2 separate regions of the Homo sapiens genome follow, and region 2 is linked to region 1. The links come from fine-mapping of genetic effects on gene expression. Tissue or cell type: adrenal gland. Region 1 holds a variant in brackets; the other region holds the start of a gene. All regions are shown on one strand. Distances are between the middles of the regions.

What was found. PIP is the estimated chance that this variant, and not a neighbour inherited with it, causes the effect.
Region 2: NUBP1 starts here. The variant in region 1 is fine-mapped to the expression of NUBP1 in adrenal gland (GTEx, PIP above 0.99).

Annotation. Positions count from the first base shown.
Region 1 is chr16:10,825,842-10,833,727 of GRCh38, reverse strand. No RefSeq gene overlaps it. Among named protein-coding and RNA genes, the nearest start is that of TVP23A, 11 kb to the right of the region's middle. RefSeq lists a silencer at 4,713-4,782. The variant T/C (reference allele first, on the strand shown) is at 4,023.
Region 2 is chr16:10,741,552-10,747,933 of GRCh38, reverse strand. It overlaps NUBP1 (NUBP iron-sulfur cluster assembly factor 1, cytosolic), which reads right to left and starts at 4,092. Exons shown (of 11, transcript NM_002484.4): 1 at 4,052-4,092; 2 at 3,869-3,973; 3 at 658-791. The coding sequence starts at 4,070. RefSeq lists an enhancer at 4,234-4,283.

The DNA of each region.
Region 1 (7,886 bases):
CAGCCACTCGGGAGGCTAAGGCAGGAGGATGGCATGAGCCCAGGAGGTCGAGGCTGCAGTGAGCTGTGATTGTGCCACTGCACTCCAGCCTGGATAACAGAGTGAGGCTCTGTCTCTAAAAAAATAAAAAATAAAAGAAGGGTGTTTGGTGACTCCCATGAGCGGAAGTCCCCTGGCTACAGTTGGATGAAAGTCTCCTGGCTGTGGCAGAACACAGGGAGGGGCCTTGACACCACCCTTTGGGTAGAAGTGGCCATGCCTGGACCCACCAAATGCAGACTGGGGCCTTTCTCAAGTTCTCTGCTTTGTGGTTGGGTTTTTCCAAGTGAACTGAGCTAAAATTATGAATGGTGAATGCAGCGTCTCGGAGGTATAAAGGCCAAGTGAGGCTGAGAAATGAAAATCCAGTCCTCGAGGTACCTTGGCCAAGAATCCAGGTGCCGCATTTCAAGACCTGTGTTTGAATATCCTGAGCTCACTCATGGGGAGGGCTATCTGATTTGGGGGTCCTGTTTCTCCCAGGGGCTCCTCAGTCCCTCTGTAAGTGAGTTGATGCTGATAGGTATGAGGGCTCTACCACCTCCACCTGCTGACACTCCCCAAGCGCCAGCTGGGTTGGGGTGCACATGGATGGGGGTGAGTGGGCATCATCCATTCTTTTTCCTAGCAGCTCTGGTCCCAGCTGGTGTGGACTGTATGTGGAGAAAGTAAGGCAGAGAGGCCAGTGACTCATTTAGGGCCACCCTACTGGTCAATTCCCACCAAGGTAGTGGATGACAGAGGTGGAGTAAAGACTCTTTCCTCTGTGTCACCATGATGGTGGTTGGCAGGAGCCCACAGTCCCTCGGATCCTGTCACCATCTTCATTCCCACCAGGTCCTGGTGAGCTTTCACTTCCAACAGCAGCCCCTGCACCTCTTAGCTAGAGACACTCCTCATGATGTTGGAACCTGCTTTGCCTGTGTGTTTTCCTAGAGCCAATGGGGCAAGGGCAAGATGGACAGGAGAGTATAAATACCCCAGCTCCCCCCTCCCACTGGAGACTCTGAGAACCCCCTGTGGGGTGAGCCACAGTTACCTTCTGTTAAGGGTTGACTATGTCCTTCATCTCAAAATTCCTATATTGAAGTCCTAACTTCCTGTACCTTAACATGTGACCCTACTTGGGGATAGAGTCATTGCAGACATCATTAGAAAGATGAGGTCACACTGGAGTAGGGTGGATCCCTAATCCAATATGACCGGTGTCCTTATAAAAAGGGGAAATTTGGACACAGACACGCATACAGAGAGAACATCATGTGAAGATTGGATTACGCAGCCACAGCCTAGAAAATACCAGAAACTAGGAGAGATGCTGGGGACAGATCCTTCCCTAGCGCCTGCAGAGGGAGCAGGGCTCTGTAGACACATTAATCTCAGACTTCCAGGCTCCAGAACTGGGAGACAATGAATTTCTGATTTTTAAGCCACTCAGTTTTTGGTACTTTTTGATACACCTTTGAGGGCCTTTGTCTGCTGTCACACCCCTGTGTGGCCTCCCTGCCTCTCAGCCCATCTCTCCGACCCTCCCCAGAGCCCTGCCTAATCCCTAAGGTGCTCATGCACCCTCATGCAGGGTATGGTCTGCTTCTGGGGAATCCCACCTGACAGCGGGTTTTTTTTTTTTGTCGTTGTTGTTTGTTTTTGAAACAGAGTCTCGCTTTGTCGCCCAAGCTGGAGGGCAATGGCACAATCTCAGCTCACTGCAACCTCTGCCTCCCAAGTTCAAGTGATTCTGCTGCCTCAGCCTCCTCAGTAGCTGGGATTACAGGCATGTGCCACCACAACCAGCTAATTTTTATATTTTTAGTAGAGACAGGGTTTTACCATGTTGGCCAGGCTGGTCTCAAACTCCTGACCTCAGATAATCTGTGTGTCTTGGCCTCCCAAAGTGCTGGGATTACAGGCATGAGCCACCATGCCCAGGTTACAACAGTAGGTTTTCAGGAGCAATGGCAAACTCGCCAGTGGCAGAGAATGAAGTGAGCACACTGGTGTCTGGGGGTGGTGAGCTCGACTCTGCAACCCCATCTAAGGGGGGATAGCACCGCTCAGCTCCCACCACAGGGAATTCAGGCTCCATGTCACCTGAGCTTCCTTAAGAAAAAACAGAAGTACAGACTTCAAAAAAAAAGTGACATCTGATTTTTCTTTTCTTTTCTTTCCTTTCTTTTTAAGAGACAGGGTCTCACTCTATCACCCAGGCTGGAGAGCAGTGATGTGATCACAGCTCACTGCAGGCTTGAACTCCAGGGCTCAAGCGATCCCACCACAGCCTCCCAAGTAGCAGGGACTGCAGGCACAGGCCACCATGCCCCGCCTGGTTAGTATTTTTATTTTTTATAAATAGATATGAGGTCTCGCTTTGTTGCCCAGGCTGGTCTTGAACTGGCTTCAAGAGATCCTCCTGCCTTGGCCTCCCAAAGTGCTGGAATTACTGGCGTGAGCTACTACACTTGGCCCCAATTTTCCAATACTGGCCATTAACTCCATGAACGCTGCCTATTTTTTTTTTTAACTATGCAGGTCCAACCCAAACATGTCTGGAGCCCAGAGTTGACCCTTGGGCAGGCACTTTGCAACCTTGGGTTAAAGGTTTGGCAGGGACTGTGCACCCCAGTTTTGTGTGATGGGAAAAGCTATGAGCAGGGAGCAGGTGGAGACCTGATATCTACTCATGGGTCTACCACTGGTTTGCTGTATGCACCTGCTTCAAAACCTCTCTGAGCCTCAATCACCTGATCTGTAAAATGGGTATCATGCCATGCACTTTACCTCCTGGAGTGAAAATAAAGGTGGCTTGACATAATTTATTTAGCAAACACTTACTATGTGCATGCAATGTGCTGAGTATGTGATAAAACATTAACTCCTAGCCAGACCCAGGGGCTCATGCCTGTACTCCTAGCACTTTGGGAGGCTGAGGCAGGAGGATCACTTGAGTCTATTCCAGACCACCCTGGGCTGCATAGCAAGACCTTGTCTCTATGAGAAATAAAAAATTAGCTGGGTGTGGGGTGTGCACCTGTAGTCCCAGCTACTAGGGAGGCTAAGGCAGGAGGATTGCCTGAGCCCAGGAATTGGAGGCTGTAGAGACCTATGATTGCAGCACTGCACTCCAGCCTGGGTGACAGTGAGACCCCCATCTAAAAGAAAAAAGAAAAAAAACAAATTAGCTCCTGCATTCTATCCAACAGCCCTGTAGGGAAAAGAAAGAGAGATCAGACTGTTACTGTGTCTATGTAGAAAGGAAAGACATAAGAGACTCCATTTTGAAAAAGACCTGTACTTTAAACAATTGCTTTGCTGAGATGTTGTTAATTTGTAGCTTTGCCCCAGCCACTTTGCCCCAGCCACTTTGACCCAACCTGGAGCTCACAAAAACATGTGTTGTATGAAATCAAGGTTTAAGGGATCTAGGGCTGTGCAGGACCTGCCTTGTTAACAAAACGTTTACAAGCAGTATACTTGGTAAAAGTTGTTGCCATTCTCTAGTCTCAATAAACCAGGGGCACAATGCACTATGGAAAGCCACAGGGACCTCTGCCCTTGAAAGCTGGGTATTGTCCAAGGTTTCTCCCCATGTGATAGTCTGAAATACGGTCTCGTGGGATGAGAAAGACCTGACTGTCCCCCAGCCCGACACCCGTAAAGGGTCTGTGCTGAGGTGGACTAGTAAGAGAGGAAAGCCTCTAGCAGCTGAGATAGAGGAAGGCCACTGTCTCCTGCCTGCCCCTGGGAACCGAATGTCTCGGTATAAAACCTGATTGTACATTTGTTCATTTCTGAGATGAGAGAAATACCGCCCTATGGTGGGAGGCGAGACATGTTTGCAGCAATGCTGCCTTGTTATTCTTTACTCCACTGAGATGTTTGGGTGGAGAGAAACATAAATCTGGCTTACGTGCACGTCCAGTCATAGTACCTTCCCTTGAACTTCATTATGACATAGATTCTATTGCTCACATGTTTATTGCTGA[T/C]CTTCTCCTTATTATCACCCTGCCCTCCTACTGCATTCCTTTTTGCTGAAATAATGAAGATAATAATCGATAAAAACTGAGGGAACTCAGAGACCGGTGCCGGTGCCCGGTGCAGGTCCTTGGTATGCTGAGCGCGGGTCCCCTGGGCCCACTGTTATTTCTCTATACTTTGTCTCTGTGTCTTATTTCTTTTCTCAGTCTCTTGTCCCATCCGACTAGAAATACCCACAGGTGTGGAGGGGCAGGCCACCCCTTCACGGCCCTTAAAACAGGTCATGATTCTCATTTCACACTGAAGGAAACTGAGGTTCAGAGAGGTTTAGTAACTTGTCCAAGCTATTTATTTCCCGGCTGATAAGAGGCAGAGCTGAGCTTCAAAGCACGCTGACTGCAAAGTGTCTGAGTCCACAAACTGCTGTTTTGGTTTTTGTTGTTGTTGCTTTGGATACACAGGAAGGAGAGAGATGGGCAGTGACTCCCCGGCTTGCCTTGTGGGTCTCTGGACAAGCCGTCTGGGGAGGAACTGAGCCTGCGTGGGCGACGCTGGCACAGGGCAAAGCTTCCTGACCCAGTCTGGACAGGGGCCAGGGCTGGGCTAAACAACCTACCACTCTTTCTCCTCAGTGGAGCATTTCCCGTAAGTGGTGGCAGCCTGCCTGCTGGCTCGCAGACCTGCTAGGGCAGGCAGCCAGCCATTGCTTGGGCTCCTCCTGCAAGAGGCCCCCAGGGCTCCCAAATCGGGTCCTGGGTAATCTAAGTCCCGCTGCCCGCCCCAACCCAACCTCCCTGCGGCGGAGGGCCAGGCATGCTGCAGCGGCTACTCTGGGCTCCCCGCCTCATAGCTTAAATGCGTCCTCCATGTTGACATGCAGGGCAGGGCGTTTTGGGAGGGATGGGGACAGGTGGGCCTGTGCTGAAAGGTGGCGTGTGTGTGTGTGTGTGTGTGTGTGTGTGTGTGTGTGTGTGTGAAAGAGAGAACTAGATTGAGACCAGACCCCTCGGGAGGCAATAATCCAGGTCTCTGTGTCCCCTGAATTGTAAGGTCCTCATCAGGGGACTCTGCAGAGATTCGCTGCCAGGCGTGTGTTCTGAGTCGCTCATCCCTTTGTTCACCCACTCTCTGGCTGGCTTGTGGAATGCCAGCTGTGTACCTGGCCCCATGCTCTATGAACTTAAGAGACGCCTGCCCTTATGGAGACAGTACCCTAGTGGAGGCATGGGGAGGGGAATCTTACTAAACCAATAAGAAAACAAGAGAATTAGAGATCGTAGAAAGTGCTAGAAAGGGAACAAACATGTCAGGCCACAGTCTAGATCCCAGACCCTCAAGAGGGACTGAGAAACTGGGTGGGACATGAGCTGGGCTTCAGGGAAGGCCCCTTGCGGGGAGACCTCATATTTTCAGCCCTGAGAAAATCAGGAGGAGAAGGGCTTTCCTGGCCAGGGAGTCAGCAGGAGCGAAGGCCCTGAGCCAGGAAGAGGCTTGGAAGTTTCTGAAAATCTTGGAGTCTGGCCATTGTGGTCAGAGCATGATGAGTGGTGCAGGGAGAAGTGGGAAAGATCCGCAGTTCCTGACCAAGCAGGGCCCGGCTAGGTCACTTTCTCTAGTAGGGACAAGCTTCAGACCCCCCGGCTGCTAAGGGAGCGACCAGTGTCATGACCTCCCCAGCCCTGCCTCCATGGGAGGGGCCTGCCGACCTCTGGCTGCTCCAACAGGAGGCAGAGGTCCAGGGCCCATCCTGTCCACTGGGGTCACAGCCACTGTCCCCCATCCCGGCTGGCCGCAGAGAAGGCCCTGTTGACCTGACATTTCTGTCTCTTGTCCAGGCCCTTGAGTGACAAGAGGCCTTCTTTGGCCTGTTTGCTGACTTCTCCACGTCCCTGGTGACAGGGTGTGTTGCTGGGGAGGCCAGGCGGGCCACATCAAAACTTGGCTGTCCCTTTTGTTCCCTGGTCTGGAATTTCCCCTCTCTGTGCTTCTGGCATCCTGTCTCTACAAAAAATAAAATTAGCAGGCCGGGTGCGATGGCTTATGCCTGTAATCCCAACATTTTGGGAGCCCGAGACAGGAGGATCACTTGAGGTCAGGAGTTCCAGACCAGCCTGGCTAATGTGGCGAAACCCCATCTCTATTAAAAATACAAAAGTTAGCTGGGCGTGGTGGCGGGCGCCTGTAATCCCAGCTACTCAGGAGGCTGAGGCAGGAAATTGCTTGAACTCAGGAGGCGGATGTTGCAGTGAGCTGAGATGGTGCCATTGCACTCCAGCCTGGGTGACAGAGCAAGACTCTGTCTCAAAATAGATAAATAAATAAATAAAATAAAATAAGCTAGGCAGAGTGGGCATGTGCCTATGGTCCCAACTATACAGGAGGCTGAGGTGGGAGGATCACTTGAGCCCAGGATTTTGAGACCAGCCTGGGCAACATAGTGAGACCCCAACTCAAAAAAAAAAAAAAGGTAAAATTTATTTGCTTTGTCCCCCAGGCTGGAGTGCAGTGGTGTGATCTTGGCTCACTGACGCCTTCACCTCCTGGGTTCAAGCGACTGTCCTGCCTCAGCCTCCAGAGTAGCTGGGATTACAGGTGTGCACCACCACACCTGGCTAATTTTTGTATTTTTTAGTAGAGACGGGGTTTCACCATGTTGGCTAGGCTGGTCTCGAACTCCTGATCTCAAGTGATCTGCCCACCTCGGCCTCCCAAAGTGCTGGGATTACAGGCATGAGCCACAGTGCCTGGACGTTTATTTTAATTTTGACAGGCTTTCGCTATCATCCAGACTGAAGTGCAGTGGTGCAATCACGGCTCATTGTAGCCTTGACCTCCTGGGCTCAAATAATCCTCCCTCCTCAGCTCTTCAGTAGCTGAGACTACAGGCGCACACCACCATGCCGGGCTAATTTTTGTATTTCTTATAGAAACAGGGTTTTGCTATGTTGTCCAGGCTTGTCTCTAACTCCCCAGCTCAAGTGATCCTCCCACCTCAGCCTCGTGAATAGCTGGGACTACAGGCATGCACCACCACGCCAGGCTAATTTTTTTTTTTAATTATTATTTTTGTGTAGAGACAGAGTCTCATTATGTTGCCCAGGCTGTTAATTATAATAATACATTCTCTTTAATCCACTATGTCTAAAAGATTATCATTACAGCATGTAAACAATTAAAACATGATTTCAATATTATTATTTTACATTCTTTTATTCCTACCAAGTCTTTTTTCTTTTCTTTTTTTTTTTTTTGAGACAGAGTCTCACTCTGTTGCCCATGCTGGAGTACAATGGCACGATCTCGGCTCACTGGAACCTCTGCCTCCTGGGTTCAAGCAATTCTCCTGTCTCAGCTTCCCAAGTAGGTGGAACTACACGTGCCCGCCACCACACCTGGCTAATTTTTGTATTTTTAGTAGAGATGGGGTTTCATCATATTGGTCAGGCTGGTATCGAACTCCTGACCTCAGGTGATCCACCTGCCTCGGCCTCCTAAAGTGCTGGGATTACAGGCGTGAGCCACCACGCCCGGCCTTTTATTCCTAACAAGTCTTCAATCTCTGCTGTGTACTTTGCCCTGATAGCCCATCTCCATCCAGCCTTACCCCATTTCAAGGGCTCAGTAATGACTTGTGGTTCCTGGATTAGACAGCACAGCTTTGCATGGGGGCATTTAGTGCACTTTTGACAAGCTCTAGTTTGTTGTTTTTTCACTTGGCTGTATTTATTTGTCTGTAACTAGAAAGTTGGCCTAAAGAGGGTCAGCAATCAGCAGCTTATATCTCTTGCTAAGAGCTGCGTCCATGTCCACACCAGCGTGCTGGGCACAGCTGGTGTCAGGATTTGCACCCAGGTCTGTCTGGGTAGAAATCC
Region 2 (6,382 bases), 85 kb after region 1:
ATTCTTAGTTCAAAGGCCATAAGGCAGGAGATGGGCTGGATTTGGCCCACTGGCTATAGTTTGCAGGTCCCTGGCTTAGAGAAAAGCTAAAAGGGGTTAATAAAGAGGAAAAAGAAGCGTGAACGTAATGTAATAAACTATCCACATGCAAGGACAGATGTACATCTGCTAGCCATTTTCTTGGCTAGGGAATCCAGTGAAATGCTTCATTTGACTACTGGGCATTTCTTTGCTCTCTGCCGGATTGAGATTCCAAAGAGGCCAATTCAACTTAGTATAAGGAATCATTTTTTTTTCTTCTTGGACAGTCTCATTCTGCCACCCAGGCTGGAGTACACTGGTACAATCTTGACTCACTGCAACCTCTGCCTCCTGGGCTCAAGCGATTCTCATGGCTCATCCTCGCGAAAAGCTGGGATTACAAGCCTGCGCTACCACGCCCAGCTAATATTTTGTATTTTTAGTAGAGACAAGGTTTTGCCATGTTGGCCAGGCTGATCTCAAACTCCTGGCCTCAAGTGATCTGCCCGCCTTGGCCTCCCAAAGTGCTGGGATTACAGGCATGAACCACTGCGCCTGGCCTAGGAATCAGTTATTTAGTAGCCATCACGACCCTCAGACAAAATGAGCATCTCCCAGTGGTTCCTGAGGTCTCACCTGTGTGTTTTCATCCTCTGCTAGGCCATGGGCAAGGTGGGCGCTGAATGTGCTTTTCCCAACACCGCCTTTCCCAGACAATACCAAGATTTTGTGTTTTACAGTCTTCATTTTCTCTTTGATTTCCTCTATAGCTGCAAAGAAAACCAAAGTTCAGGGGATGAGGTCCCACACCAAACCTCGAATGTCACGCTTCCAGTCAACTAGAAAGAGCTAAGTCCTAGTCCTAGTACTAGTCCTGGGGCTGTTTAAAACGATCCTCTGAAATACCTCTCAGACAATGGTAGAAATAAGTGCTAGGAAGAAAATAAGGCTATTATCACACTTGAAGGGGTCTCATTTATTGGTTTACACGTTTGTCTCCCCCAACTAGAACATAGTCTCCACAAAGGTAGGAACTGTCTGAAGCTTTCAGTGCTGTATTCCCAGCTCCAGAAGAGAACTTTGCAAACAGCAATGGTCACCAACTTGGGGACAAAATCCCCCAGAGACATTTGGTAATGTCTGGAGACACTGTTCTTTCTTTCTTTTTTTTTTGAGACAGAGTGTTGCTCTGTCGCCCAGGATGGAGTGCAGTGGCGTGATCTCGGCTCACTGCAACACTGCCTCCTGGGTTCAAGCGATTCTCCTGCCTTAGCCTCCCAAGTAGCTGGGATTACAGGTGCCTGCCACCATGCCTGGCTAATTTTTGTATTTTTAATAGAGACGGTGTTTCTCTATGTTGGCCAGGCTAGTCTCGAACTTCCAACCTCAAGTGATCCACCCACCTTGGCCTCCCAAAGTGTTGGAATTACAGGTGTGAGCCACCATGCTCAGCCTGGAGACACTTTTCATTGTCACAGGAGAGGTACTGCTGGCATTTAATGGGTACAGCCCAGATTGTGCTAAATGTCCTACAATGCACAGGACAGCCCCCCACAACAAAGAGTGATCCTGCCCCAAATGTCAGCAGTGCTGAGGTTGAGAAACTCTGATAGACAGCAGGCACATACTAAGTATCTGCCAATGAAACTATCTTATTTCAAATCCTTAAAACAATACACGAGGTATAAAGGAAATTAAAAAGTCTCATGACTGGCCAAACTCAAGTGAAAGTTAAGCCTGGAAACCTCCCAACACTGCTGTCCTCCTCCCCATCAACAGACAGCTGTTACTTCCCAACCTTGTGTCAAAGCATTCTACATTAACCAGACACCTGCAAAAGGCCAAAGGCCCCATGCAATCCATTGTGGGATGACTGCCCTCACAAGTTGCTCCTAAGGAACTCCTTTGCTGGCCCCTAAATCTTTGAAGATGAGTATCCTCCCATAAACAAGGACATGCCAACTGTAACTTTAGGACTGTAACCTCAGTCTAACTCCTTCCCTATTACTGATGTCTGTTAAACGCCACACTGACCATGTCCATTACAAGCTTATCCTCCCACATGCCAAACAAAGATGGGATGAGATAGTCCTTCCTCTCCTACCCTGAGACGTCTGCCTAATTAATTCTTCCTTTATTCCCTCTTTTGAATGTTTACTTTATTTTCTGAATAGTGTAGATATACTGGGCACGAATTAAAACCTCACAAGAATGTAACTACCTGCCACGAGGCCTACTGCACTTTTTCCTGCATGCTTTTTCCCCTTTTAATGAAATATATAAACACCAGCCTTCTGGAACCACTCCATCGAGCACAGGCCACAGATGTTTCTGTCACTTGTATTTTCCAGGGCACGCCCTCAAGCTCTGGCCCAATAAACCTCCACTGAGGCTCAGTTCAGTCTCTCCATTGCATTGACAGAGATAACTATTTTTCTCTTCATTTTTTTTTTTCTTTGAGACAGGGTCTCACTCTGTCACCCAGGCTGGAGTGCAGTGGCACGATCTCAGCTCACTGCAACCTCCACCTCCCGGGTTCAAGTGATCCTCCCACCTCAGCCTCGAGGGCGGGCATGCACCACCATGCTGGCTAATTTTTGTATTTTTAGTAGAGACAGGTTTCACCATGTTGGCCAGGCTGGTCTCGAACTCCTGACCTCAAGTGATCCATCCACCCGCCTCGGCCTCCCAAAGTGCTGGGATTACAGGCGTGAGCCACTGCACCCGGCCTGTCTCCATTTTTGATGAGGAACCAGAAGCTCAGAGAGGTTAGGACTATTGCTGAAGGTCACACCGCATGGATCCAAGAATCAAATCCAAGTCTCTCTCTGAACTCCTTCAAGATTCTCCCCCTTGGCCAGGTGCAGTGGCTCATGCCTGTAATCCCAGCACTTTGGGAGGCCCAGGCAGATGCATCACTTGAGGTCAGGAGTTCGAGACCAACCTGGTCAACATGGTGAAACTCTGGTTCTACTAAAAATATAAAAATTAGCCAGCCGTGGTGGCAGGCGCCTGTAGTCCCAGGTACTCGGGAGACTGAGGCACGAGAATCGCTTGAACCTGAGAGGTGAAAGTTGCAGTGAGCCGAGATCACACCACTGCACTCTGGTCTGGGCTACACAGCAAGACTCTGTCTAAAAAAAAAGGGGGAAAAAAAAGAAAAAAAAATATTGTCCTCCTGCCTCCTGCTTTTTAAGGTCCTTCTGAGCAGGCTCCCTGGGTCCTCTCATCCTGGAATCTGTGCTTCACAGCACTTAAAGCTGCGGTGGTTTAGTTGCTAGCTCACGTGTTTGTTTCCCCAGTAAAGCTAAACTCCACTAGAGCAGTGACCACGCCTGATCCCCAGCTGTGTCCCCAGGACAGCACCAAACCTACGAGGCGATCAACACATTTCTGCTGAATGAGTGGGAGAATCACTCCTCAAAAGGAAGAAAATTGTGTCAAGAAAGTAGCTGGCAGAGCCAGGATGTAAGTCCGAAGACTCCCCGACTTCGAAGCTTATCCCGTTTTTCTCTGCGGTCTGTTATTGTCACTCAAACCTCTGGCCCCGACCCTCTTAATTAATGTCCCTTTCGACTCCGCGCCGGTCAGTCTCCACCCTCCATCCGCGCCAGGTCCTTCGCGCTCGCCTTCTAAAGGCCTCGTTCCTGTCAGTCATTCCAAGCTCCGCCCTCACCCTGCCCACTTTCCACGCCCCGCCCCTTCTGGGCCCCACCCCTCTCCGAATACAATACCTTCTAGCCTGCCGCTGTCAGTCATTCTGCAGATCCCGCCCCCTCCCTCCCACGCCCCGCCTTTTCCGGGCCTGCGCCTCTAAGTTCCTGTTGAGGCCTTGCCCTTTTCTCACCCGTGTCCGGAGTGGCCCCCGCTCCAGAAGCGCACAGCCGCTGGTTGGGGCATCCCTGACATGAAGCCCCTCTGCCCGCCTGGGCGCTGTCGGCCCCTGGACAGTCTGCGCAGAGACAAGACCACAGTTAGAGCAGCTCCCGACACTTTCGCCCCGCGACCCACGCCCCCTCCGCGAGCTTACCGTGAGGCACCTCCTCCATTCCGTCGCCTTTGCCGCCTTCGTGGTCACCGGAACCCGCTGTCGTACATTTCCGCCTTGTGGGCACAATCTGATTCTCCGACCGCGCGAAATAAGTCTCGGAAAGGGGGCTGTGCGCACGCGCGAACCTTGGGCCGAAAGACTGGGACTCAACGTCTGTTCCTTTTCAGAGATTTCCTATCATAAATACTTCTGCAGTGCATCTCCTAAGAACAAAGCCATTCTTCATGACATCAGTGCCATTTTCATACCCAAGAGATTTAATATCGATGCAGTACTAGCCAATGCAGTATTAGCCAATAGACAGTTTATATTTCAATTTCAGTTGTTAGACCCCCTCCCCTGCTGGATTCACTCACTGCCTGGAGTTATTTCTCTTCGGTCTCCTTTAATTCAGATCAGTCCTTCTTTTTTTAGGGGGGGTCTCATCACCTTGATAATTTTGACGGGTCCAGACCAGTTGTGTAATAGAATATCCCATATTCTTGATTTGTCTAATCCTCCCCTCCCTCTTGCCTTGTAATTAGATAAAGGTTAATTTTTCTTTTTTCCTGCAGAACACACTTGGATAATGTCAGTTTGTCCCGTTTTTGGTAATGTGAAGCTTGATCGCTTGCTAAAGGTGGTGTCTGCCCCATTTCTCCATTTAATGTTTCCTTCTTCCATTTGTAATTAACAGGTACTCTCTGGGACCATCTTCTTCTCTATCAGCCTTTCACTCAGTGATTTTAGCAGCATTTATATATATATATATAAAACTATAGATTATATATATGATAAATATATATCAGTTTTATACCCTCTCTTTTTTTCTTTTTTTTCGAAGACTCACTATGGATTCCTGGATTTTTTAAAATTGTCTTTTATAATCAATTATTATTCTTTCTGGTCGATTTTTTTTCCCCCAGATGTGGCCAGTGAAGCCCCTTCAAGACAGTTCTTATGTTCTTTGGGCACTAATCCAGCTTCTTTGAGCATTTTCTTGCTTTCTGATACAAGATGTTTCAGTCATCCCTTCTCCCTGCTGCAGTCATTTCTTCAGGGAGCCTTGGTTACTTTTTAGCAGACAACAGTTCAGAAACCAAGATGTGGATGCCACAAATGCTCATTGCTACTGGAGTGTCATTGCTCACAGGTTTGGCACCTGGAATATTAATGAGTGAACAAACTTTACCTAGCCCCAGACACTAAGAATATGGAAACGTTTATTTATTTATTTATTTTTGAGGCGGATTCTCGCTCTGTCACCCAGGCTGGAGTGCAGTGGTGGGATCTCGGCTCACTGCAAGCTCCGCCTTCTGGGTTCACGTCATTCTCCTGCCTCAGCCACCCGAGTAGCTGAGACTACAGGCCACCACGCCCGGCTAATTTTTTGTATTTTTAGTAGAGACAGGGTTTCACCATGTTAGCCAGAATGGTCTCGATCTCCTGACCTCGTGATCTGCCCGCCTTGGCCTCCCAAAGTGTTGGGATTACAGGCATGAGCCACCGCACCCGGCCTCGGAAACATTTATTAAACAGCAGTGTATCAGCTGCCTGTCACTACCACTAATTATAGCCAGCATTTTGTAGAATACTTACCGTTTGGCAGCTGTCATCTTTGTGCTTTCATGTGAATTACCTAATTTATGTCCTTTCATAGTCCTACTGTCTCCATTTTTGGATAAGGAAACTGAGGCTTAAAGTAAACTACTTTCCCGAGGTCGCATGACTGGTAGCAGGGGAACCAGGGTGATAAACTTGGTCTGTCTGGCTGCAGAGCCTGCACTTAGTAACACATGGTCCCAGCCAGCACTGGGCTAGATGCCAATGATTCCAGACTAACCTGGACCCTGCCATCTGGAGCACAGTCTGGTCGGGAGAAGAGGACCAGAGTGATGGGGCATCAGCAAAGGCCTGGAGAGCAGAGAGGAAGTCACCTATCAGGTAGGGACTGTTGTCATTTCCGTTTTACAGGTGATAAGATGGCTGCAAAGATTTACTTGTCCACAGTCTGAGAGGCAGAAAGAGCAGAACTGGGTTTTTAACCAAGTCTGATACAGGGCCTTTGCTATTAATCACTATACTGTATATTAGAGGGCAGGATGCAAGTTATTCTCCTTTTTATTTTTATTTTTGTGGGATGGAATCTCACTCTGTTGCTCATGCTGGAGTGCAGTGGTGTGATCTTGGCTTACTGCAACCTCCACCTCCCGGGTTCAAGCAATTCTCCTGTGTCAGCCTCCTGAGTAGCTGGGACTACAGGTGCCCACCACCACGCCTGGCTAATTTTTTGTATTTTTGGTAGAGACGGGGTTTTACCATGTAGGCCTG